Regions from separate parts of the Homo sapiens genome. Here regions 1 and 2 are each linked to region 3. Evidence: fine-mapped expression QTL. A gene starts in region 3. Each other region holds a variant in brackets. All regions are shown on one strand. Distances are between the middles of the regions.

Region 1 (8,184 bases), 31 kb before region 3:
TGTTCTCGCTCTATTTTCTTGGGGTTCCTTTTTTAGGGTTTTTTAGTTTTATTTTGTTCTGTTTCATCTGGTGTTTCATGCTAGACACTGTGCTCCTTGCTTCTAAGTGAGACACCAAAAGAGCTGATGGGAAAGAGTTATGTGTCCATCAGGGGGCAGAGATTGATGACAGATGGATTTACTAGTGGATTCCCATGGAGACAGATGTCCTTTTCAGTGGGGGAGTCCCAAATGCAATAGATGGAGGTCTTTTCTTTACAACCATTCAGTTTCCTCAAAGAACATTCACTGTCAAACCTCAGTGCCTCATTGGTGGGGGCTACGAGTGGTCACATGCCCGGCTGCTAAGGAAGAGAGCTGATGGTCTCAGAATCTCATATAAAAAGTTTAGCTGGATCTCCCCAGGCCTCTGTTTTACCTGGTGTCCGTGTTTTTGGTACTTTTTTGGTTCATTTTTTTCTGAAAAATTAATCTTCAGTTTCCTGCAATAGTGGTAGAAGGGGATGAGGCTGGGTGGGAGGGGAGGAGAGCTGTCACCTGACTTCCAACAATGGAAGTGGGGTGGAGGACCAGGGAGTCCCAATGATCTTCACAATGACATCATCTCATTGCCTGCTGTCCCTGACATTGCTGGAGCACTAAGTCTCTCAAGGCCTCATTTAACTGGGTTCTTCTTTGGTGTCATTCATTGCAGGCACTTGGGTCCAACTTATCTCCATGCCATTACATTCATGTTCTCTGGACCTGCTGTCTTCTCTCTTGTCCAGTTTGTCATATGAGGTCACTTTTAACTATATCATATCATATCATATCATATTATATATATCCATGTCATTTTAGTGGAGAATGCAAATCAAATATGTGTGGTTAATATCTTTTTTATTTTATTTTATTTTTATTTTAAGAAATGGGGTTTCACATTGTTGCTCAGGCTACAGTACAGTAAGGATTATAGCTCACCGCAGTCTTGAATTCCTGGGCTCATGGGATCCTCCTGCCTCAGCCTCCCAAGGGCTGTGACTACAGATGCATACCACCATGCCTGGCTAATTTTTAGATTTTTGTAGAGACTAGGTCTCACTATGTTGCCCAGGCTGGTCTTGAATTCCTGGGCTCAAGCAATCCTCCCCACTCAGCCTCCCAAAGCTCTAGGGTTACAGGTGTGAGCCACTATGCCTGGTCCAATCTGTCCTTTTTCAATAGACGTTCCAAGACATTAAAGATAATATAACTTCAAATCTGTCAGGGACCTTACAGATCTTGAAATCCAACCTCATCATTTTACAAATGAACAAAGGAAAACCCATAAAAATGAGTTCCTTGCCAAAGTGAACGGTGGTAATGGGGCCCTCCTTCTGGGAAGCAGTGTGGAAAGACTGTGGCCTCCATGCTCTTGAATCAGCCTGTGTAGTTTTACATCTTAGCCCCATTCTCGGCCAGCTCTATCTTAAACTGTCTGTGGATCACTTTCCTTACATGTAAAATGGGGATAATAAATTACTTTACTTATCAGGTTGTGGTGGGCACTAATGAAATAATATTTATAAGGCACTTAAAATAGTACTTTCAATAGTAATCAATCAATATATTATTATTAGTTTAAGTAAATCAAATTCAACTTTTAAAATCCTATACCTGGTACTAATAAACTAGAAAGATATCTTAGGATATATTAGAAATAAGTCTTTCTCTTAAAAATATACTATAAGGCTATAGTAACCAAAACAGCATGGTACAAGTACAAAAACAGACACATAGACCAATGGAACAGAATAGAGATTTCAGAAATAAGACCACACATCTACAACCATCTGATCTTTGACAAACCAGACAAAAACAAGCAATAGGGAAAGGACTCCCTGTTTAATAAATGGTGCTGGGAGAACTGGTTAGCCATGTGCAGAAAATTGAAACTGCACCCCTTCCTTATATCTTATACAAAAATTAACTCCAGATGGATTAAAGACTTAAATGGAAAACCCAAAACTATAAAAACTCTAGGAGAAAATCTAGGCAATACCAGTCAGGACATAGGCATGGGCCAAGATTTCATGACAAAAACATCAAAAGCAATTGCAACAAAAGCACAAATTGACAAATGGGATCTAATTAAACTGAAGAGCTTCCACACAGCAAAAGAAACTATTGTCAGAGTGAACAGACAACTTATAGATGGGAGAAAATTTTTGCAATCTATGCATCTGACAAAGGGCTAATATCCAGAATCTACAAGGGACTTAAACAAATTTACATTAAAAAAAAACCATTAAAAATGGGCAAAGGACATGAACAGACACTTCTCAAAAGAAGACATTTAAGTGGCCAACAAACATGAAAAAAAACTCAACATCACAAATCATTAGAGAAATGCAAATCAAGACCACAATGAGATACCATCTCATGCCAGTCAGAATGGTGATTATCAAAAAGTCAAGAAACGATAGATGCTGGTGAGGCTATGGAGAAATAGGAAAGCTTTTACCCTGTTGGTGGGAATGTAAATTAGTTCAACCATTATGGAAGACAGTGCGGCAATCCCTCAGAGACTTAGAATCAGAAATACCATTTGACCCAGTAATCCCATGGCTGGGTATATACTCAAAGGAATATAATAAATCATTCTATTATAAAGATACATGCACACTTATGTTCACTGAAGCACTATTCACAATAGCAAAGACATGGAATCAACCCAAATGCCCATCAATGATAGACTGGATAAATAAAATGTTATATATATATGTGTATATATATATGAGTGTGTGTGTATATATATATGTGTGTGTATATATATATATACCATGGAATACTATGCAGCCATCAAAAGGAAGGAGATCATGTCCTTTGCAGGAACATAGGTGGAGCTTGAAGCCATTATAGTCAGCAAACTAATGCAGGAACAGAAAACCAAGCACCACATGTTCTCATTTACAAGTGGGAGCTGAACAATGAGAACACATGGACACAAGGAGGGGAACAACACACACTAGGTCCTGTTGGGGATGGAAGATGCGGCGACAGCATCAGGATAAATAGCTAACACATGTGGGGCTTAATACCTAGGTGATGGGTTGATAGATGCAGCAAATCACCATGGCACACATTTACCTATGTAACAAACCTGCACGTCCTGCACATGTATCCTGGAACTTAAAATAAAATTCAATTTTTTTTTCAAAAAAGGAAATAAGTCATTCTAGTAGATGTATTCTGCATAGAGTAGTCTAACAGTACTGCTGATGGAAAAATAACTATCCCTGAAAAAGTCTACAATAATCTATCCATTTGATATATATTTAAATTTATCCATTAAAAGAAACAAACATGGAATTCCATAATGGTTTTCAAAATAAAATATTTCACTAATCTTCTAAAATTACTAACAATTCTGTTACAGGAACACTGCCTCAAAGCATCTAAAATGGTATTCTGTTTTGCAGATCTAAATTGACCTACACTGAAAGTAAGTAGCTTTTGCTTTAAGTATAGGAATAAAACAAGAATATGTCACTTTCATGGTTAAGTATTTCCCTGCCTACAACACAGCGGTTACAAGTGATTAAAAAAAAAACAAAAAAACAAAAAACAAAGGTGTCATTATCACTTCCTGAGTGATCAGGGCTCAGATATCGCTGGAGTAAGGGGTATGTTTAAAAATCATTTTTGTCCTAAGAAATTATCTTAATATGAAGATGAGGGAGAATATCACACATTTTCATTTCTCAGATCTCTTACACACGCCAATGTGAATTTTGGAAGTGTGAGTTGGGGCAGACTTCTGAGCCTGCCTTCTAGCTATCTTTCCTAATTAGAGGAGGATCCACACCCCAAAACAACACACAGAGGTCTATAGGGCACCAAAGCCCCCATCCCGGTCCTTCAACAGGGACTCCTGAGAGCTGCAGAGAGGAAGGAGTCATTCCAGGCCTCGATGATCACATGCTAACCAACACTTCCCACTGCTGTATTAGATTAGCATTTTTAGCAAAAGTACTGCTGACTCATCACCAACTGCTGGCCTTTTCCTTTCCACTCCTGCCTAGTCATTCCTCTCTGTGGCGTGGGCTGTGGGGGCCCTTGACGTACTGTTGTGCCCTTTTCCTCACCAAGAGTCATCCTGTTTTTAATGACATTATTCTCCTATTTGTCAATGTCTGTTTGAGTTCATTTCTGTTCTCTAGGAAAAAAAAAAAAAAAAAGCTAGGCAAACAAAAAAATGTCAAAACTGTCCTCCTCCAAATGAATCCCAAATTAATAAGTAGAAAATTAAATAATTCTTGTCCTTGAAAGCTACAGATTGTAAGCATGTTGAATTACCTGAGTGATTAACAATAATGCTGTGTTTAATAATGGCAAACTCATGCAAGAAAGGAATATACACTATGGGTTAAAACGACAATAAAACCATTAAACTCAAACTTTATTATAGTACAATGAGCATCATAAACAATTGTCAAAGGCATTATTTTTCCATAAATATTTTCCCCAAACCATTTTATTATATATCCAACTGTGTTGCTTTTTCCCACCAAATCCAAATTATTTCCTGGTAACTTTCCTAGACTTTAAAGTTCATGTGTTTTATAAAATACAAATGGAATATGTAATCTCAAAAAGATTTTCCTGGTCTTGATGCTAAATTTTACATTCTATATCAGTTACAAAATGTTGATAAAAATAACCTAACATAAAATAAGGATAATTGTTAATATTTTGCTGCCTGCAATTATTTTCCTGCAGAAAATGAGAAATTATCTGGGCATAATTAATAAAATACATCATTAGATCCTTTTTGGAAAAGATCAGGTATATATCAGTTAAACTGATTACCGCATTGATATGGTTTGGCTCTGTGCGCTTACACAAGTCTCACCTTGAATTGTAATAATCTCCATGTGTCATGGGAGGGACCCTGTGGGAAGTAATTGAATCACAGGGGTGGGGTTTTCCCATGCTGTTCTCATGATAGTGAATA[A/G]GTCTCATGAGATCTGATGGTTTTATAAAGGAGAGTTCCCCTGCATATGCCCTCTTGCCTGCCACCATGTAAGATATGATTTTGCCCCTAATTTGCCTTCTGCCATGATTGTGAGGCCTCCCCAGCCATATGGAACTGTGAGTCCATTAAACCTCTTTCCTGGGTCGCTTCCAAGATGGCTGAATAGGAACAGCTCCAGTCTGCAGCTCCCAGCATGATTGATGCAGAAGATGGGTGATTTCTGCATTTCCAACTGAGGTAGCTGGTTCATCTTATTGGGACGGGTTGGACAGTGGGTGCGGCCCATAGGGGGCAAGCCGAAGTGGGGTGGGGCATTGCCTCACCTGGAAGCACAAGGAGTTGGGTGATTTCCCTTTCCTAGCCAAGGGAAGCTGTGACAGACTGTACCTGGAGGAACCGTACACTTCTGTCCAAATACTGCACTTTTCCCACAGTCTTAGCAACTGGCAGACAAAGAGATTCCATCCTGTCTGTGCCTGGCTCAGCAGTCCCATGCCCATGGAGCCTTGCTCACTGCTAGCACAGCAGTCGGAAATCAACCTGTGATGCTGTAGCTGGGCAGTGGGAGGGTCGTCCACCATTGCTGAGGCTTCAGTATGTAAACAAAGTGGCTGGGAAGCTCAAACTGGGCAGAGCCCACCACAGCTCAGCAAGGCCTACCGCCTCTCTAGACTCCACCTCTGTGGGCAGGGTATAGCTGAACAAAAGGCAGCAGTCAACTTCTGCAGACTTAAACATCCCCGTCTGATAGCTCTGAAGAGAGCAGTGGTTCTCCCAGCACAGCATTCGAGCTCTGAGAACGGACAGACTGCCTCCTCAATTGGGTCCCTGACCCCCATTTAGCCTGACTGGGAGACACTCCCAAAAGGGGCCGACAGACACCTCATACAGGTGGGTGCCCTTCTGGAATGAAGCTTCCAGAGGAAGGATCAGGCAGCAATATTTGCTGTTCTGCAGCCTCCGCTGGTGATACCCAGGTAAACGGGGTCTGGAGTGGACCTCCAGCAAACTAAACAGACCCGCAGCTGAGGGGCCTGTTAGAAGGAAAACTAGCAAACAGAAAGGAATAGCAACAACATCAACAAAAAGGACATCCACACCAAAACCCCATCTGTAGGTCACCAACATCAAAGACCAAAGGTAGATAAAACCACAAAGACGGGGAGAAACCAGAGCAGAAAAGCTGAAAATTCCAAAAACCAGAGTTCTTCTTCTCCTCCAAAGGATCGCAGCTCCTCACCAGCAATGGAACAAAACTGGACAGAGAATGAGTTTGAGGAGTTGACAGAAGTAGGTTTCAGAAGGTCGGTAATAACAAACTTCTCTGAGCTAAAGGAACATGTTCTAACTCATCGCAAGGAAGCTAAAAACCTTGAAAAAAGGTTAGATAAATGGCTAACTAGAATAAACAGTGTAGAGAAGAACTTAAATGACCTGATGGAGCTGAAAACCACAGTACGAGAACTTCGTGACGCATGCACAAGCTTCAATAGCTGATTCGATCAAGTAGAAGAAACGATATCAGTGATTGAAGATCAAATTAATGAAATAAAGTGAGAAGACAAGATTAGAGAAAAAAGAGTGAAAAGAAACGAACACAGTCTCCAAGAAATATAGGACTATGTGAAAAGACCAAATCTATGTTTGATTGGTGTACCTGAAAGTGATGGGGAGAATGAAACCAAGTTAGAAAACACTCTTCAGGATATTACCCAGGAGAACTTCCCCAACCTAGCAAGGCAGGCCAACATTCAAATTCAGGAAATACAGAGAACACCACAAAGATACTCCTCGAGAAGAGCAACCCCAAGACACATAATTGTCAGATTCATCAAGGTTGAAATGAAGGAAAAAATGTTAAGGGCAGCCAGAGAGAAAGGTTGGGTTACCCACAAAGGGAAGCCCATCAGACTAACAGCAACAAAAGCCAAAATAGACAAATGGGATCTAATTAAACTAAAGAGCTTCTGCACAGCAAAAGAAACTATCATCAGAGTGAACAGACAACCTACAGAATGGGAGAAAAATTTTGCAATCTACCCATCTGACAAAGGGCTAATATCCAGAATCTACAAAGAACTTAAACAAATTTACAAGAAAAAACAACCCCATCAAAAAGTGGGCAAAAGACATGAACAGACACTTCTCAAAAGAAGACATTTATGCAGCCAACAGACACATGAAAAAAAAATGCTCATCATCACTGGTCATCAGAGAAATGCAAATCAAAACCACAATGAGATAACATCTCACTCCAGTTAGAATGGCTATCATTAAAAAGTCAGGAAACAACAGATGCTGGAGAGGATATGGAGAAATAGGAACACTTTTACATTGTTGGTGGGAGTGTAAATTAGTTCAACTATTGTGGAAGACAGTGTGGTGATTCCTCAAGGATCTAGAACTAGAAATACCTTTGACCCAGGGATCCCATTACTGGGTATATACCCAAAGGATTATAAATCATGCTACTATAAAGACACATGCACACATATGTTTATTGTGGCACTCTTCACAATAGCAAAGACTTGGAACCAACTCAAATGTCCATCAATGATAGACTGGATTAAGAAAATGTGGCACATATACACTATGGAATACTATGCAGCCATAAAAAAGGATGAGTTCATGTCCTTTGCAGGGACATGGATGAGGCTGGAAACCATCATTTTTAGCAAACTATCACAAGGACAGAAAACCAAACACTGCATGTTCTCACTCATAGGTGGGAGTTGAACAATGAGAACACATGGACACAGGGCGGGGAACATCACACATTGAGGCCTGTGGAGGGGGTGTCGGGGGCTGGCGGAGGGATAGCATTAGGAGAAATAACTAATGTAAATGTCGAGTCAATGGGTGCAGCAAACCAACATGGCACATGTATACCTATGTAACAAACCTGCACATTGTGCACATGTACCCTAGAACTTAAAATATAATTAAAAAAATAAATAAACCTCTTTCCTTTATAAATTACCCAGTTTCAGTTATGTATTTATTAGCAGCATGAGAACAGATTAATACAAGCATATTTTTTGTATATATACATAGCATGCTTAAGTTTCATGGGACCAGCAAGCTTTCAAATGATAAACGGAGGAAATGCAGACAACGTGAAATACAACTGAAATCTTCAGGCATCTGTTGTGATTAATACTAATAACACATACACTTTCTTGTGGGTC
Region 2 (8,184 bases), 100 kb before region 3:
CTGCAAGCATGATTAAACTTCTTGCATATTTAGTGAATTTTCAGCATTAACTATACAAGTCCTCACAATCTTGTGAGGTAGATCAATCTCCTTTCTAATTTGAATAAACAGACTGTCCTCAGAAAGGATACTGATGCTTACTAAAATTCAACGTTTTTAAGAAAACATTTTCATATTGCATACTTATGGATAATTTTACACTTAAAACCAAATGTGTGCCTGGATTTTTCTAGGTCCTCTGACATAAACATGGCATTGTGAAAAAAAAGCTATATTCAGAGTGTTAATTTTGGTATTTCAAGAAATTCGTCAGTCAGACACAATTATAAATCTAAGCTTGGGTACCAATGCTTCTGTGAAACAAAGCTAGAAGAGATTCCTTTTGCAGACTTATCCCTTGGGATATTTGGGTGTGGCTTGTTTTCTTCTCTGACCGAAACAAAGATATGCAGGAAAATCTTCTTTTACAACTAAAATTCCTTGTTCTCACAAACGAGCTTGAGGAAAAAAAAAAGCAGCAGATCTAGCCCAGCTTAATCATTTGCTTCTACTAGTGCATATATTGGATTTAATCCAAGTTAACAAAAATAAAGCCGCAGGATAGATACATGCAGTCGTATATTTAAGCTACTGACTCACATACATGTTAATGTCTGAAAGTATTTAAAAAATATGGAGGCGGAAGAAAAACAGTAAGAAGTGATAAAACATAACAAGTTTTCTTATTCTTTATTAGTTTAAAGGAAGCTAGAACCTAATAACAATACGCCACATACGGTTCAGAACCAAACAAAAGCTGCTTAGTTATTTATTTTGCATTTGCATTTTGTAGGAAGTGAGAAAAAAACAGCTCTATTGGGACTCAAGTTTATTTTCAATTAAAATCCCCATAAATTAGGAAATGTCTTATAAAACGGAGAAATTGGAAAAAAATGTTATTCAGAAAAAAACTTTCTTGAGTGTGCTTGTTTCCTGTAGCACCTTGGATTTTGTGATCAGTCTTTTAAAGATATTTTTTAAAAAATTCAACCTCTGTCTTCACATTTAGGACAGGGCATAACAGTGTCTTGTCCTTTCATGCAAATAAGAGGAAAAATTTATACTTGCTTAGTTTCGAGCATTGAAAGCACTCGCCCCTAATTCTGCCATTTGCTCATGTCCCACATGAATAAAAGGATACAGCTTAGAAACCAGGGCCTTGCTGCTATTGTATTTTTTTCTAATTAAAATTCAGAGTATTAAACACAGTTGAGTACATCCATGCATACATGACATACCGTCATCACATACCGGAAGCTCCAATCAAGAGCCCCGAGCAAAGCTCGTTTCATAACATCATTAAGATTCATTGTACACTGCGTTTCAGAAAGGCTTTGTCAAAGCAGATAATAATGGCCTGTCAGAAATGCACAAACAGAAATTTATATTAAATTGTCCTTTCCCTCCTTTTAAAATATGGGAATCTATTAATAGCTGCATTCCCGGTATAGGGGACTCAAGTCTTCAGTTAAAAAAAAGTCCCCAGCTTCTTAATATTGTAAGCTTATTACCAAAATAAGAGTATAAAAAGTTAAGTGAAAAATATTTGAGTAACTAGGTGGGGGTATTCCTGGGAATACTAATCAAATATAATGACTGTATCAAAACAAAGGAAGGCGGAGCTCAGGAGTGTGAAGGTAGATAGCATTGCTGAGTCACAAGGCGGAGTGTTTAATTTGGAACAAGTCAAATAAAAGCACTGCTTTCTTTTCCTTAGGAACCTTTGATACTCTTTATATTAACCTCAGAAAAGAAAGCTCTCTCATTTGAACATTTTTTTCTTTTATATCCTGCTGAGTGAAGATGCCTGGGGGGACAAACTTGACAGCTGGCTTCCCAAGTACAGGCGTAAATATGATGCTATCTGGGACTTTAGTGGTGAGAATTCATGTCTTTAGACTCGATATTTTTCTTTACCGTGCTCATTGATGACGCATATGTGCTGAAACAATAAAGGATTTAAACGCATCAGTTTCTTAACAAAATATGAGACACAGAAAAGGTGATGCAGTAATAACCGAATGCCATCCTGTAATTGGCTATTGATCATTTAAATAGAAATGTGTGTATTTATATGTGTGGGTAAAATCTAAAGAGACCCATTCAAGTGCTTGACAAAAGGTCCTTTGTGGTTTAGTTTGGAGATTCCTATTCTGAATCCGGCTCCCCAGGTCCCTAAAACCCAGAAATGCTGAGGGAGCTGTATGTTTAGCCCTGCTAGAAACAGAAGTCTCCTACTGGTAAGATGACAACTGCTTGGGTGAATGGAGAAATAACAGTGGCAAGCACAACATGGGCTCTTATTCAACCCTTTTTGGGCAACAAGCAAAGGGTTAGGAATATTTTGATTGAAAGCAACAGAAATGGGGCCAGGCTAATGTAAGCAAAAAAGGAGGATTTGGATGGGCTCAGTGGCCCCTGTCTGTAATCCCAGTACTTTGGGAGGCTGAGGTGGGAGCATGATTTGAAGCCAGGAGTTCAAGACCAGCCTGGACAGCATACGAAGACCCCATCTCTACAGCAAGTAAAAATATTAGCTAGGCATAGTGGCGTGTGCCTGTAGTCCCAGCTACTCAGGAGGCTGAGGCGGGAGGATCGCTTGAGCCTGGGAGTTCAAGGCTGCAGTGAGCTATGATTGCGTCACTGCACTCTAGCCTAGGTGAGACTGTGGAGTGAGACCCTGTGTCTTTAAAGAGGGGGGAGGGGGAATTTATTGGTGGAATACTGGGGTAGCTCTCAGAATCCAAGGATGAGCTGGGCAATGAAGCAACTAGAAGGCAGGAACAAGGGCAGCTCCAGAGACTTTCACCCATGGTGCTATGGATACTCTCTGGGGGCACTGCTATCCTAGTGGTTGAAGTCTGAACACACTCAGTCTCTGTGACTTTTGGTTTAAATTTCTAATTCCCAGGACAGAGAGACTGATTGGTCCACTATGGGTAAGTTGTCTACCTCTAGATCATGCAGTGTTGGTCAGGGTCACACAGCTGGGGTCCACACTGGGGGTCCACGTCTGTGTGGTGAGATCATTTCCCCCAAAGAGGGAAGAGTTATGAGCTGCATGCCACTGTAATTGAAACCTGCTAGAGTTCAAGCACTGACACAAACCAGTGTATAGAATATTGGCTATTGTTATGGTTGGTTGGGCACAGTCAATGACTATGGAGAAGAATCAGTGTCAAACCATAGTTCTGCTTTTAGCTTCCTATTTCTTTAGTACAAAATAGAGATAATCATAATTTGCCTCTATCATCCTGATACCTACCCTGCAGAATAGTAGTGGGAGTTAATTGGGAGTATGGATGCAATGTGCTCACCATACTCCTGACATAGAAGATACTCAATCAATAGCAGACATCACTAACACGCATTCAATACTTTTTTAAATTGTTAAGTTCTTATAAAAAGGGCGGTTAGGGATTTGCATGCAAGACTTACATTCAGATCTCTGAAGTATTCATTGTAATCTAAGGCATATCCCACCACAAATAAGTTTGGAATCTCAAATCCAGCATCTTAGCAGACAGAGAAA[G/C]AGAAAAAAAAAAAGGAACAAAATTTAGATTATATAAATGCAAGTCACCATATGCTGCTGTCGCCACTCAAACTTGAGGACCTTTCATTGAGGCAGGAGGGAGTGAGAAATGGTGAGAAATGCACACGATGAGCCCAAGAGGGACCTGGACCCGAAGGACTACTCGGGAGGAAGGAGGCAAGGCAAACAAGCCAACCTACAATGAAGAATGACTGATCTAGCATACAGAGTTGAGAAAGGGCTCAGGAAGCCTGGTGCATAACAAGAAATATGCATAATTGAGTCACGTGGCCCTGGTGTTCTAAAGCAAGCAGTATGCAGTGATACGATGCCAAAGGAAACACTCTCAACAACACAAAGGAAAGTTCAAGCAGAAGGCGTTACGACGCTGCATTATGTGAACAGGTGCGCGGGCCACAGCAACTAGAAAGCAATTCTCCCGCTGTACTCAGTGTCTTGGCTGTTTAAAGGGCTGGAAAGCAAAAGCCAGGACACAAGATGAAAGGCAACGGGATTGTTCAACTTGAGGAAGAGAATGTGGAGGTTGCATTAATGCTGGTCTTTGGGTTCATGATGCAGAGGATATTAATGAGCTCCCTACTGAGGGCAGAATGAGAGGAAATGGATTTAAGCACAGTGCAAGGTACTTATGAAAAGCAAAAGAAGATTCATTGAAAAGATGATGATTTTTTGTCAGAAAGGATTCTTTTTTTTTTTCTGAGACCGAGTCTCGCGATCTTGGCTTACTGCAGCCTCCACCACCAGGGTTCAAGCCATTCTCCTGCCTCAGTTTCCCGAGTAGCTGGGAAGACAGACGTGTGCCACCATGCCAGGCTAATTTTTGTAGTTTTAGTAGAGATGGGGTTTCACCATGTTGGCCAGGCCAGTCTCGAACTCTTGACCTCAAGTGATCCATCCGCCTCAGTCTCCCAAAGTGCTGGGATTACAGGCATGGGCCACTGAACCTGGCTATTTTTTGAGAAAGGATCTCACTCTGTTGTCCAGGCGTGTGATCATGGCTCACGGCAGCCTCTACCTCCACAGGCTCAGGAGATCCTCTCACCTCAGCCTCCTGAGTAGCTGGGACTACAGGCATGCAAAACTACGCCTGGCTAATACTTATTGGAGAGAATTCTTAAGGAACAGACAATAGCTCTCCTTCTTCAGAAGTCTTGAAACAGAATAAAGGTGCACTGGTCCAGTGATTTTCAAACTTGTTTCAGTGTTTTGGAATCTTACAGGTTTGTTTATTACAGTATTATAGATGAGAGATTTATTTGCTTACTTTTAATGGAAGTGTACTTGGGTACAGCCAGTGGGCTTATAGCCTGGGCAAAGTCATCTCCACAGTGACTATGACCAACGATGCTTTCACAAGAAGAAAACGACTGGTTCATGCTCATAGAAAGTACTGGAGGTACTTATTTTCTAGGGGGTTACATTATGGAGTCCCTTGCTAGGAAAATAAGTACTAGAGGTGAGGGACTTATTTTCTAGGGGGTTGCATTATGGAGTCCCTTGCTAGGAAGCCTGCTTGATTCCTCCAAACTGCAGAGTTTCTTGAAAAAAAGAGTAAGAGAGGAGAAGCAAGAGCAGAAGAGGTCAGAAGTTACATTGAGGAGAAAAGAAAGAATCAATCAGGAGAAAGGAACGCAAAGTACAAAGCCTCATAAATCCAGAGAGAAAGAAGGAACAGAGATTCTGAGCTAGCTAAAAGAATATGAAGCCGGGTGCGCACCTGCAGTCCCAGCTATTCAAGAGGCTGAGGCAGGAAGATCATTCGAGGCCAGGAGTTTGAGACCAGCCTAGGCAACAAAGTGAGATCCCATCTCAAAAAGAAAAAAAAAAGGTAAGGTGCAGTGGCTCACGCCTGTAATCCCAGCACTTTGAGAGGCTTAGGTGGGTGGATCACCTGAGGTCAGGAGTCCAAGACCAGCCTGGCCAACATGGTGAAACCCCATCTCTACTAAAAATACAAAAATTAGCCAGGTGTGGTGGTACCTGTAGTCCCAGCTACTTGGGAGGCTGAGGCAGGAGAATCACTTGAACCTGGGAGGCAGAAGTTGCAGTGAGCCAAGATCACGCCACTGCACTGGGCGACAGAGTCAGATTCCGTCTCAAATAATAATAATAATAATATGAGCAAATCCCAAGAAACCCTGTTTGTAACCAGGGTTATAATAATGACTTTATAGGGAGCAATGCAATCCTTCCATTAGGCAGGGCAACTCACACTGGGAAAATGAGAGCCCAAAGCCTATTTAGAAGGCCAAAACTTGAGATGTCATAGAATAAAAGGATGATGGATCAGCAGGACAATCATGAATCAGAGTGACCTATCCTTAGCTGGTAAATGCAGGCAGCTCCTACACTTACATTTGCAATAGCAGATGTTACTTGCAGATGTAGTGGAAGAGTCAGGGCAGTGACTGAAACCAGATTGCCTGGGCTTAATATTGGCCTGACACTCATGGCTACATGACTTTGGCAAGCTATTTAAGCTTGCTGTGCTCAATTTCCTCATCTGTAAAATAGGTACAACAACAGCTCCTACCTTTAGAGAGCTATTGTGTGGATGAAATGAGCTAATCTCTGTATAGCTCTTAGAATAGTGCATGGCACATCACGACCTCTTCCTAGTGTTAGCTGCTATTATTTTATTGCTGTTATTATAAGTGATATAAGAAATTTGTCATTGAAGTGAATGTTTTTCAACTTCAGTTAAAATCTTATTTATACACTGAGTATCCTGTACTATTTCCTTAGACAATTTCTGCTTAGTAACCGCATGCAACCTTGACTACATCCAGATTATACCTTTGATAATAGTAATAGATGAGAACATGCGATTGGGTCTCTCTGCCCAGAACTGACATGGTCCAGAGTTAACACATCCAGCACAGGCATGAAACTTGTTTTCAGAATGTAGAGTCACTGGCTAAATGTCGCTGGCATGTCACCCATCCATACTGCACTTCTCTTTCGCTAATGTTTGTTCAGCTTGCTGAAGAGAACTGTAGCCAAATTATCCCAGGAGCTTTGGAGCAAATGTAAGTTATAAAAATCAAGCTGAAGTCTGCCTATGCAAGTGAAAAAAAATCGCCTCTAGTGTTAGAATAATAAATAATTAGGCTGCGTGTTTATCCTTCTTGGTGTTAGAACTAGGCTTATTATGGGGAGAAGGGAGGAGAGTGTCCTAGATGAGGAAGCCCTAGAGAACACACATCTGAAGTCAAGTGTGAAGATGGTATCTAGAGATACCTGCTCTGCTAATTCTCTGTGTTACGGAGCTTTGGTTTGGAGGTGAAGGGGAGCTGTCTTAGATTTCCCCTTCTGTGCGTTACAATTCAGGCTTGCTAAAGGTCACCATTGTGCGTTGTCTGGTAATAGTTCCGGATGATGGCATAAGAATCCCTCTAAACCTCCATAGCACCTCTCCTTGTCTGACTGGTGAGAATAGAGGCCAAGGCGGGGATCCTATGTGTCTGAGTCAGTCCAGCGGGATCAGGTCTTCCTCTACTCCCTGAAACTTTTCAGCTGACTTCTCTGTAGTTAAGGTGCTGTGTGAAACATACAAATAAAAATACCCAATGCACGGAACAGAGTTCCTGTGAAAGATGCAAATTAGAACATTGAAGACCCTCATTTTGAAGGGTTCTGTTTTCCCTATCAAGGTGGGGGAGATCATGAGGAATCCGTGGGACTATCAGCCCTACACAGTTTCAAATCCACATGCAATGCTGTCAAATAGGAAACCAAAGATTCTTAAACATAAAATGAAACACCATAAGCACAAAACAAACAAACAAACAAACAAAAAACTGAAAAACACTTACAGTCAGGTCTAAAGCCGTCACTTCTGGATGTTCTCTTCACCAACAAACTACCATTAAAAAAGACATGCTTTAGTGAACCCAATCAAATCTCTATGAATTGTAAATAGAATCAAGCATCATTAAAAGATGTACTTGAAATACATATTTTGCTACTGTGGCACTATATAGATGGTTCTGGATAAAAAGAAGACAGCAGGTCAGGCACAGTGCTTACATCTGTAATCCCAGTGCTTTGGGAGGACAAGGTGGGAGGATCACTTGAGCCCAGAGTTCAAGACCAGTCTGGGCAACATAGCGAGACCCCTGTCTCTACAAAAAATTAAAAAATTTAGCTGGGTGTGGTGGCACCTGCCTGTAGTCCCAGCTACTTGGGAGGCTGAGGTGGGAGGATTGTTGTAGCCCAGGAGTTGAAGGCTGCAGTGAGCCTTGATTGCACTATTGCACTCCAGCCTAGGTGACAGAAAGAGACCCTGTCTCAAAAAGCAGATAAAATATAAAAAAACTTTTTAAAAAGGTAGCTGTCAGCCAGGCACAGTAGCTCATGCTTGTAATTCCAGCACTTTGGGAGGCCAAATCACTTGAGCTCATAAGTTTGAGACCAGCCTGGCCAACATGGTGAAAACCCATCTTTACTAAAAATACAAAAATTGGCTGGGCATGGTGGTACGTGTCTGCAGTCTCAGCTACATGGGAGTCTGAAGCAAGAGAATTGCTCGAACCCGGGAGGGTGAAGTTGCAGTGAGCTGAGATTGTACCACTGCACTCCAGCCTGGGTGA
Region 3 (8,184 bases):
CTTTATCAACAGATTTCTACCAACTCGGAATTTTCTTCTCTACCTCATTCCTGGACAATTCCTTGGCTGATTTACTCCAATGCCTACCTCAACGATCTTTCCAACGACTTCATCTTGTAGCTCCTTCACCAGCCTTAGCTCAAACTACATTCTTAACTCAAATCACATCTTTATTCCCCATTTAGCAATACATTCACATAGCCAGACCAGTCCTACAGATGGCCCCAACCCTGAAATTCCATCCTGGAATCACAGCTTGCTATGTAGTATAGTGATTGAAAGCTGGTTCAAATCCCGCTTCTGCCATTTGCTACTTATGCGACCTGGGTGATTTACTTAATCTCTCAGTGCCTCAGTTTCCTCTTCTGTAAAATGGGGAGCACACTAGACCTCCCTTACAGATTTGTGCTCAAGAAATGCTTGCTATTATTACCTGCCCTCTGCCCCTTTTTTCAGATGGGGTCTCACTCTGACACCCAGGCTGGAATGCAGTGGCACGATCATGGCTCACTGCAGCCTTGACTTCCTGGGCTCAGGTGCTTCTCCCACCTCAGCCTCCCCGGTAGCTGGGACTACAGGCATGCACCACCATGCCTGGCTAAGTTTTGTATTTTTTGTAGAGAGAGGGTTGGCTGCCCAGGCTGGTCTCGAACTCCTGGGCTCAAGTGATTTGCTCTCTCAGCCTCCCAAAGTGCTGGGATTACAGGTGTGAGCCACCACTCCCAGCCACCTGCCCCTTTTTAAAACTGGTACTAATTTGATTTTTTGTATCCCATCCTTGAGAGCTTTCTATTCTCCCAGTAAACTCATCCTCTCCAGCTCTCCCTTCCCTCCTGCCTTACATGCCATGAGCTGCCTTCTACCAGCAGCTTCGATTCGCTCTGAAGTTGCCTGCTTATATCCAACTTGAGGTTAATCTAATTATTCCAAGTTCTACTGGAGAAAAGGATGTAAATGTAGGGACTATCTCCATTATATGTGGATTATTTCCCACCTTTGTGGGCTCTCATGCAAGCACCAAGCCCCTTGGCAGCTGGTCCAGTTTATACTCATTTTTTTTGTTTATTTATTTATTTATTTATTTATTTTTTTTTTTTTTTTTAAGAAGGAGTTTCACTCTTGTTGCCTGGAGTGCAATGGTGCAATCTTGGATTGCTGCAACCTCCACCTTCCGGATTCAAGCAATTCTCCTGCTTCTGCCTCCCAAGTAGCTGTGATTACAGGCATGCACTACCATGCCAAGCTAATTTTGTATTTTTAGTAGCAGCAAGGTTTTACGATGTTGGTCAGGATTCTATTGAACTCCTGACCTCAGGAGATCCACCCACCTCGGCCTCCCAAAGTGGTGGGATTACAGGTATGAGCCACCTCACCTGGCCCTCTACTCTCTTGATACCCCTCTCACTACCTCTTTGCATCTTTCAAAAAATTACCTTGCTTCCAAGAGGACCTCTGTTGACACCAATAGACTGGGCTATTTACAGTGTTCTCTCACTTGTTTTTTAGACTTCAACAATTTACCTACTCTATCCGTGCATCTAGATTCACCTTATTCTTTTCTAAAAGTATGTAGTATGTTACGGTAGTACAAGTTGAGTACCCCTTATCCAAAATGCTTGGGATCAGATGCGTTTCCAATTTCAGATTTTTTTTCCTTTGGATTTTGGAATATTTGCATTATACTTCCTGGTTGAGCATCCCTAATCTGAAAATCCGAAATCCAAAATGCTCCAGTAAGCATCTCCTTTCAGCATCATGTTGGTGCTCAGAAAGTTTCAGATTTTGGAGCATTTCGGATTTTGGATTTTTGGATTAGGGATGCTCAACTTGTACTATATTTTAACCATTCTACCAATGCAGTGGTTGTTTAAAAGATTCTCCCTACTAATGGCTTTGTAATTGTTAAATACAGTGGCTGTTTTCCATCTTGGTATCCGACTTGCTGTCCCTGTAACATCTGACACTTCTGATGACCTCTTGACCCCGCCCCTCCTGCTCAACAATGCTCTATTCCCAAGGCACCCACCATGCTGCCTGCCCTCCCACCCTTCAAAGTTCTTTCTCGGTTCCTTCAACCAGCTTCTCCCCCACAGGCAGCCTCTTATATTTGGGACTTTCCAGGCTTCCATCCTTAACAGTTGCTTTAATTGTTTTTTCCATATTCACTGAGCACTCCCGAACATTACATATTATTCTTTTTGCTGATGACTTCCAAATCTCTCCAATCACTCTCCAGAATTCCAAATGTGAATTTCAAATTGCCTACAGTGCAGGCCAACCTGTGGGCCTTACAGGCACTACAAACTCAATTTGTCCAGAATGAACTTAATGATTGCCCTTTTTGCGTTTTAGTCCCCCTCCCATCCATCACACCGCTAGGCTTGCCCCTCCTCCTGGGGCAACTGGAATGGTTTTTGTAAAAGCATAAATCGGATACAATGATTCTTTTGCATTTGGTATGCGGGTCTCTGCCTGCAGTCCACATGGCTACTCCTGTGTACCCTTCAGATCTTGGCTCAAAGGTCACCGCAGAGAGGCTGCCCTGACCACCTGAGCAAAAGCATCACTCCCCCCTTCTCCTCCAATTACCCTCTATCCTGTTACCCTCCTCCTATTGCACATATCTCTATTTGAAATTTTCTCTATTTGTTTACACACTGCTTGCCTATGTCTTCTCTAGAACGCAAGCTCATGAAGACAAGGCCTTTGTCTTTTGCACCCCAGAGCCTACAGCACCTCCTACAACCCAGCAGGACAATAAACGTGTGGAATGAATAAATCAACTCCTCATCCTTTCAGAAGGAAAGGTCCTGCTGTTAAATTAAGCACTGAGCCCCACATTTCAACCTGACCCTTCTGTCTGAATGTGACACGTTTCCCTCCCCAGCCCACTTACTTTAGTTCAGGCCATTCATATTCATAAACAGATTATCTGTGAATGACAAGCTGATCCCTGGAAAGAGATGGCAAGTTAGCCCCACCCACCATCCTCACCACCATTGAGTTTCACACTGAACCTGACACAAGTTATAACCACCACCTTCTAGGAAAACCACTTCTCAGGGAGCAGGGAGGACGTGGCCACAAGGTCAAGAACGGGTTGGATCCTAGCACACTGAGAGATGGGTACCCTCTGGCTGACACCGTCAGGATTCTCAGGGTTAATGAGGCTCAGTTCTGGGAAACCAGCACCCCACACCCTCCCATCCGGACACACTGCTAGATATTTTACATGCATCCTCCCAATTGGCTCCAGAGCCCAGCTTGCTGTTGCTCCCTTTTACAGACAAGCCATAGGTCACTCAGGAGCCGCCAGCGTGTCCTAGAGCTCCTGCAGAGGCCTCCACTGCCAGAGAGCCCCCAACCTGGGTACCAAAGGCTTCAAATCTCAAGCTCTGTCCACTTGAGCTACTTTATTTCCTAGCTGCCTTCAAAACCCCTCAGTGTGCTTTTTAAAAACAAAACTTGAAGCCCGCCCTGGAGGAGTCAAGAGGAGACCCAGGAAGAAGGAGGCCTCCAGAGCAGCACGCGGGGGTCTCTGGGGCCCTGCCGGGCTCGCAGAAGCGACTCCCCGTGGCTCGCGGGGATGGGGACGGCTGGGCGCCGGCGGGACGCTGCAGGAGCGAGCTACCGGCCGGAGGACACGGGGGGACGCTGGGAACTCGGGGTGAAGGGACGGGACTCAGAGTTTCGTCAGATTGGGGGCGGGGAGAGGAGGCCCGGGTCCGAGGATGGAAGCGATCCCCGCCGGGAGGGAGAACAAAGCGGTGGCCCTCTCTCTCCCCCGACGCACGGCAAGCATTTAATCTACAAGCAGGGTGCCAGGGAGGGAGGGGAGCGGGCCGAGCCCCAAAATAGGGAGTTTGCATTTACCACGACGCCTCGCCCGTAGTCTGGCGCCTCCTCGCTGCTCCCGGCCATGTTTCTCCCGGGGAACGCGGGAAGGGAAGACGGCGCGGGAAGGAGCAGGGAGGGCGAAGGCTGCGTGGGGGATGGGACGTGGGGATGGGGACGGGGACGGGGACGGGGACGGGGACGGGGACGGGTCCGCCCCGCCCCGGGCCCGCCGGCGGGAAGCAGCGGCCTGACGCGGATCCATGGCCCCGGCGCTGCGCCCCCTCCCCTGGCTAGGCCGCGGGGGCGCGGGGAGCAGCTGCCAAGCCGCTACCGCTCCCCCTGAGCGCGGGCCCCGGACGCGTCCCTTGCGGCCGCCGCTGTCGCCGCCGCCCCCTGCCGGATGGTCGCGTGCAGCCCCCGGCCCCGCCGCCAAGCCCCGCGGGGACTCTGGAGCAGGAAGCCCGCGGCAGGAAGAGAACGTGTCCCCCAGGCCCCTGATTCCCAGATCCACCGTCCCAGCCCTCGGGCTAACAATCTCCTTGACTCCTCCCTGCCAGATTTCATGCACGCGATTGTCCCAAGCAGAAGCGTGAAAGAGCCTGTGAGCCAGCGTGCTCTTGGAGGATGGGAAGTGTCCTGGATGTGTTTTCAAACCTTGGAGCCGCCACCCACCTCTCTCCACCTCCGCTCATCTCCCTCCACCTCCCCTCACCTCCCTCCACCTCCCCTCACCTCCCTCCATCTTCCTCCACCTTTCTCCACCTTCCCCCACCTCCCTCATCCCAGGGCCTGGAGCTGGAAAGATTACACCCGATTGCTTTTAGGGTGGCCCGGATCTGCAGTGATCAGATCTGGGCTTTGAGGATCCAGCCTTTCGGCCTTTCGTCAACTGCATTCAGGGGAGGAGGGGGAGAGATTTTTACACATTCTCTGCTTTACCAGTTTTGCAAGAACATCTGGTCAGATTGTAATTGTTCCAGGTTGCAGCTTTACTAAAGCAATCGCTCTTTTCTGATTAGAAATCCTTCTTGTATGAGTCTGTTGTTCATTTCAACCCCTCTCACATGCCTATGCTCCGGTTCTTTGTCCACTCCTGTAGGTTCCTGCTTTTTCTGGGTGTGTCTTCATTCCCCAGGTCCCTGACATCTCACCAGCGTCTTCATTCACTCAGCCCAATTCGGGTCGAAGCCCTGAATCCAAGAGAACTTAACACAGTTTTCCTGATGCAGGCGTCTTTTGTTCATCTTCGAATTCTGGCACACAGAGGGGAGAGGAATGCTGATTTTGCCTAGTTTAAAGGGGAAATAGTTATCAATCGGTTAATGACGTTCTAGGTTGGAAAAATATTAGTCATTCAGACTTGGCGCCCTGGTCCTGCTCAGCAGGGCTGGCTCTTCATGTCGTTTCTAAGCGCCAGCGCCTTGGAGGGTGCAGCTCCAGAGATCCCTGAAATCAGGCATCTGCTTGGCAACTGCCTTACAGAAATGGGGGGTGTTGTTTCTCAGCACACGGGTAAACATTTTCTCCTAGTAATTGTGAGAGGGCGTTGTTTTGAGCCATTTTTGTAGTCTGCATCTCACTTCTTTTCCCCAAAGTCAAGCACCATCTTTTATTTTCATTTTCAAAGACCAGGCCCAGGAACCATATTCACAAGCAACATCATTAAAATTTCCAGGAGCAGAAAAGTGCTATCATTAGGATGATGATCAAACTTTAGAGTTCACAAGACTCTCCTGGGGAGCTGGTTAATGCAGCTTCACTGGGTGGGGAAGATCTGTGGAAGCACCTAGAATCCTGTACCTGCTGAGAGACACCAGATGGGTGTGATGTGGGTGGCTCATGACCCATGCTTTAGGGGATTCCACTAGACCATCTTACTGCTTGGATATCAAAACTTAGCCATGAGGCTCAGTGTGGGTGCAGGGCCAGATTGGGGGGTACCAGGAACTTCAAAATATGTCACAGGAGTAGTTGCCATACAGAAGTCAAAAAGCATCAACTTTGGTTCCAGCCTAGACACTGCGGAAGATGTAAGGGAAATGGTAGATAAATCTTCTTCCCTTAGAAAGGCTATTAGTTTAAACGTAAAATCCAACAAGTTCACAGTGAAAAATGTAACTTGCTTGAAAGACAACAGGAATCTTATGAATGTGTGCTCAAGAACATCCTACATAGACTTATATAGGTCATCCTATAAAGGGCACAGAATGATGAGTAAATAGTTTTTAAAAATCTAATTCATTTTATTATCTTTGTATATTTTGATAATACTTTGTGCGGTCTGATTACACTTCGATACTTTGGAGAGCATTAACATAATACAAAATAATACTTGATAACCCAAATAGTATTTGCAAAGACCGGTATCCAGAAATAACAGCTCATCTGTCCAAGGCTTTATTCTTAATCTTGCATTATGAGGATTTAGAGGCAAAAATTCTTTTTAAACCTCAAATTTCTGTTACATGTTGTATTAGTCTGTTCTCATATTGGTATAAAGAACTACCTTAGACCTGGATAATTTATGAAGAAAAGAGGTTTAATTGACTCACAGTTCTGCAGGCTGTACAGAAAGCAAGGCTGGGAGGCCTCAGGAAATTTACAATCATGGCAGAAGGCAAAGGGGAAGCAAGCACGTCTTACCATGGCAGAGCAGGAGAGAGAGAGAGCAAGGGTGTAGTGCCACATACTTTTAAACCATCAGATCTTGTGAGAACTCACTCACTATAACGAGAACAATATGGGAGAAATCCACCCCCATGAGCCAATCACCTCCCACCAGATCCCTCCCCCAACACTGGGAATTACAATTCAACATGAGATTTGGGTGGGGACACAGAGCCAAACCATATCACATGTCTAGTGGAATAGCTTTGGACTAGGACCTCTATTTTTCTGTAACAATCCATGTTACTTTAGCCAATGAGTCTAAGCCAATTATATCAGTGTAATATACATCAATTTTCTCATCCATAAAATGGAGCCACCCATTTATTCTCTACTGCATATGATGATGAGATGAATGTGAGATAACATGCAAGAGAATTCTTTGCAAAATGCTATAAAACTGTAAGATATTATTAACCTGACATGCTGTAAAAATGTATGACCAAATGTTTGTAAAATTATTCCATGTGAAAATGACAAGGAATTGTCTTTTAAGGTTGATGGGGCTAGGCACCATGGCTCACACCTGTAATACCAGCACTTCGGGAGGCCAAAGCAGGAGGCTCACTTGAGGCCAGGAATTCAAGACCAAACCTGGGTAACATTGTAAGACCACATCACTATAAAAAATTAAAAACTTAGCCAGGTGTGGTAGCGTGGCACCTGTAGACCTAGCTACTGGGGAGGCTGAGCTGGAAAGATTGCTTGAGGCCAGAAGTTTGAGGCTGCATTGAGTCATAATTGCACCACTGCACTCCAGCCTGGGTGACAGAGCAAGACCCTGTCCCTACAAACAAATAATAATAATAATAATAAAAGATTGACGTAAGGTGACCAATCAGGGATAGTTATAGTCCAGGGATAGTCTAGAGCTGGTATGAGAATGAATACAGAAAAATGATAAAATTATTAAAATAATGAGATTTTTCATAAAAAGGGATATTTTAGCTCAGACTGTCCATTTCCTTTTCTTTTTTTTTCCTTTCCAACTTTTATTTGAGGTTTGGGGGTACACACGCAGGTTTGTTTGGGAAAATTGCATGTCGCAGGGGTTAGGTGTACAGATTATTTCATCACCCAGGTAATAACCATAGCACCTGATACATAGTTTTTTGATCCTTACCCTCCTCCCGCCCTCCACCCTCAAGTAGGCCCTGGTCAGACTGTCCATTTTCTAATATACCTTTGAAAGAGCTATAAGAATAAAGATGTGCATCTTTGCAAAGTTAATAACCAGTCAATATACTTGTATTTTTCTATCATTCTCTTTATTACATTTTAGCAGTAGTTTCTCTGCATTTTATTTATTTTTTTTTTTTGGTGTTTATATTGTGTTTACTTACTTTTTTTTTTAGTTTTATTTTTAACTGACACATAATAGTTATACATATTATCTATGGGGTACAGTGTGATATTCCACTACATGTATACATTGCATAATGATCAACTCAGGGTAATTAGCATACTCATCATCTCAAGCATTTTTCTTTTCTTTGTGGTGAGAACATTCAAAATTGTCTCTTCTAGCTGATTTGAAATATACAACACATTATTGTTAAATATATCATTCTGCTGTGCCATACAGCAGGTGTCCCCAACTACCGGGCTGCAAACTGGTACCAGCCTGTGGCCTGTTAGGAACTGAGCTGCACTGTAGGAGGTGAGTGTCAGCGAGCATTC

Which allele goes with the higher level. Positions count from the first base shown, and alleles are read on the strand shown. Sizes are in standard deviations (SD) of each study's normalised expression.
For the expression in monocytes of the gene that starts at base 3,952 in region 3, A is the high allele of the variant in region 1 and G is the other (moderate effect, 0.69 SD a copy in Quach 2016).
For the expression in spinal cord of the gene that starts at base 3,952 in region 3, G is the high allele of the variant in region 2 and C is the other (small effect, 0.38 SD a copy in GTEx).

What was found.
Region 1: its variant is fine-mapped to the expression of PRTFDC1 in monocytes (Quach 2016, PIP 0.95).
Region 2: its variant is fine-mapped to the expression of PRTFDC1 in spinal cord (GTEx, PIP above 0.99). The same link has a PIP of 0.9 or more in hippocampus and putamen.

Annotation. Positions count from the first base shown.
Region 1 is chr10:24,917,533-24,925,716 of GRCh38, forward strand. The region is part of intron 3 of PRTFDC1 (phosphoribosyl transferase domain containing 1); the gene reads right to left. Among named protein-coding and RNA genes, the nearest start is that of PRTFDC1, 31 kb to the right of the region's middle. RefSeq lists an enhancer at 3,928-4,072 and a cis regulatory region at 3,995-4,005. The variant A/G (reference allele first, on the strand shown) is at 4,976.
Region 2 is chr10:24,847,911-24,856,094 of GRCh38, forward strand. PRTFDC1 (phosphoribosyl transferase domain containing 1) reads right to left here. Exons shown (of 9, transcript NM_020200.7): 7 at 7,408-7,454; 8 at 3,478-3,554; 9 at 704-1,981. The coding sequence ends at 1,934. Among named protein-coding and RNA genes, the nearest start is that of PRTFDC1, 100 kb to the right of the region's middle. The variant G/C (reference allele first, on the strand shown) is at 3,572.
Region 3 is chr10:24,948,655-24,956,838 of GRCh38, forward strand. It overlaps PRTFDC1 (phosphoribosyl transferase domain containing 1), which reads right to left and starts at 3,952. Exons shown (of 9, transcript NM_020200.7): 1 at 3,874-3,952. The coding sequence starts at 3,921. It also overlaps a transcript of THNSL1 not described here. RefSeq lists a silencer at 4,113-4,302.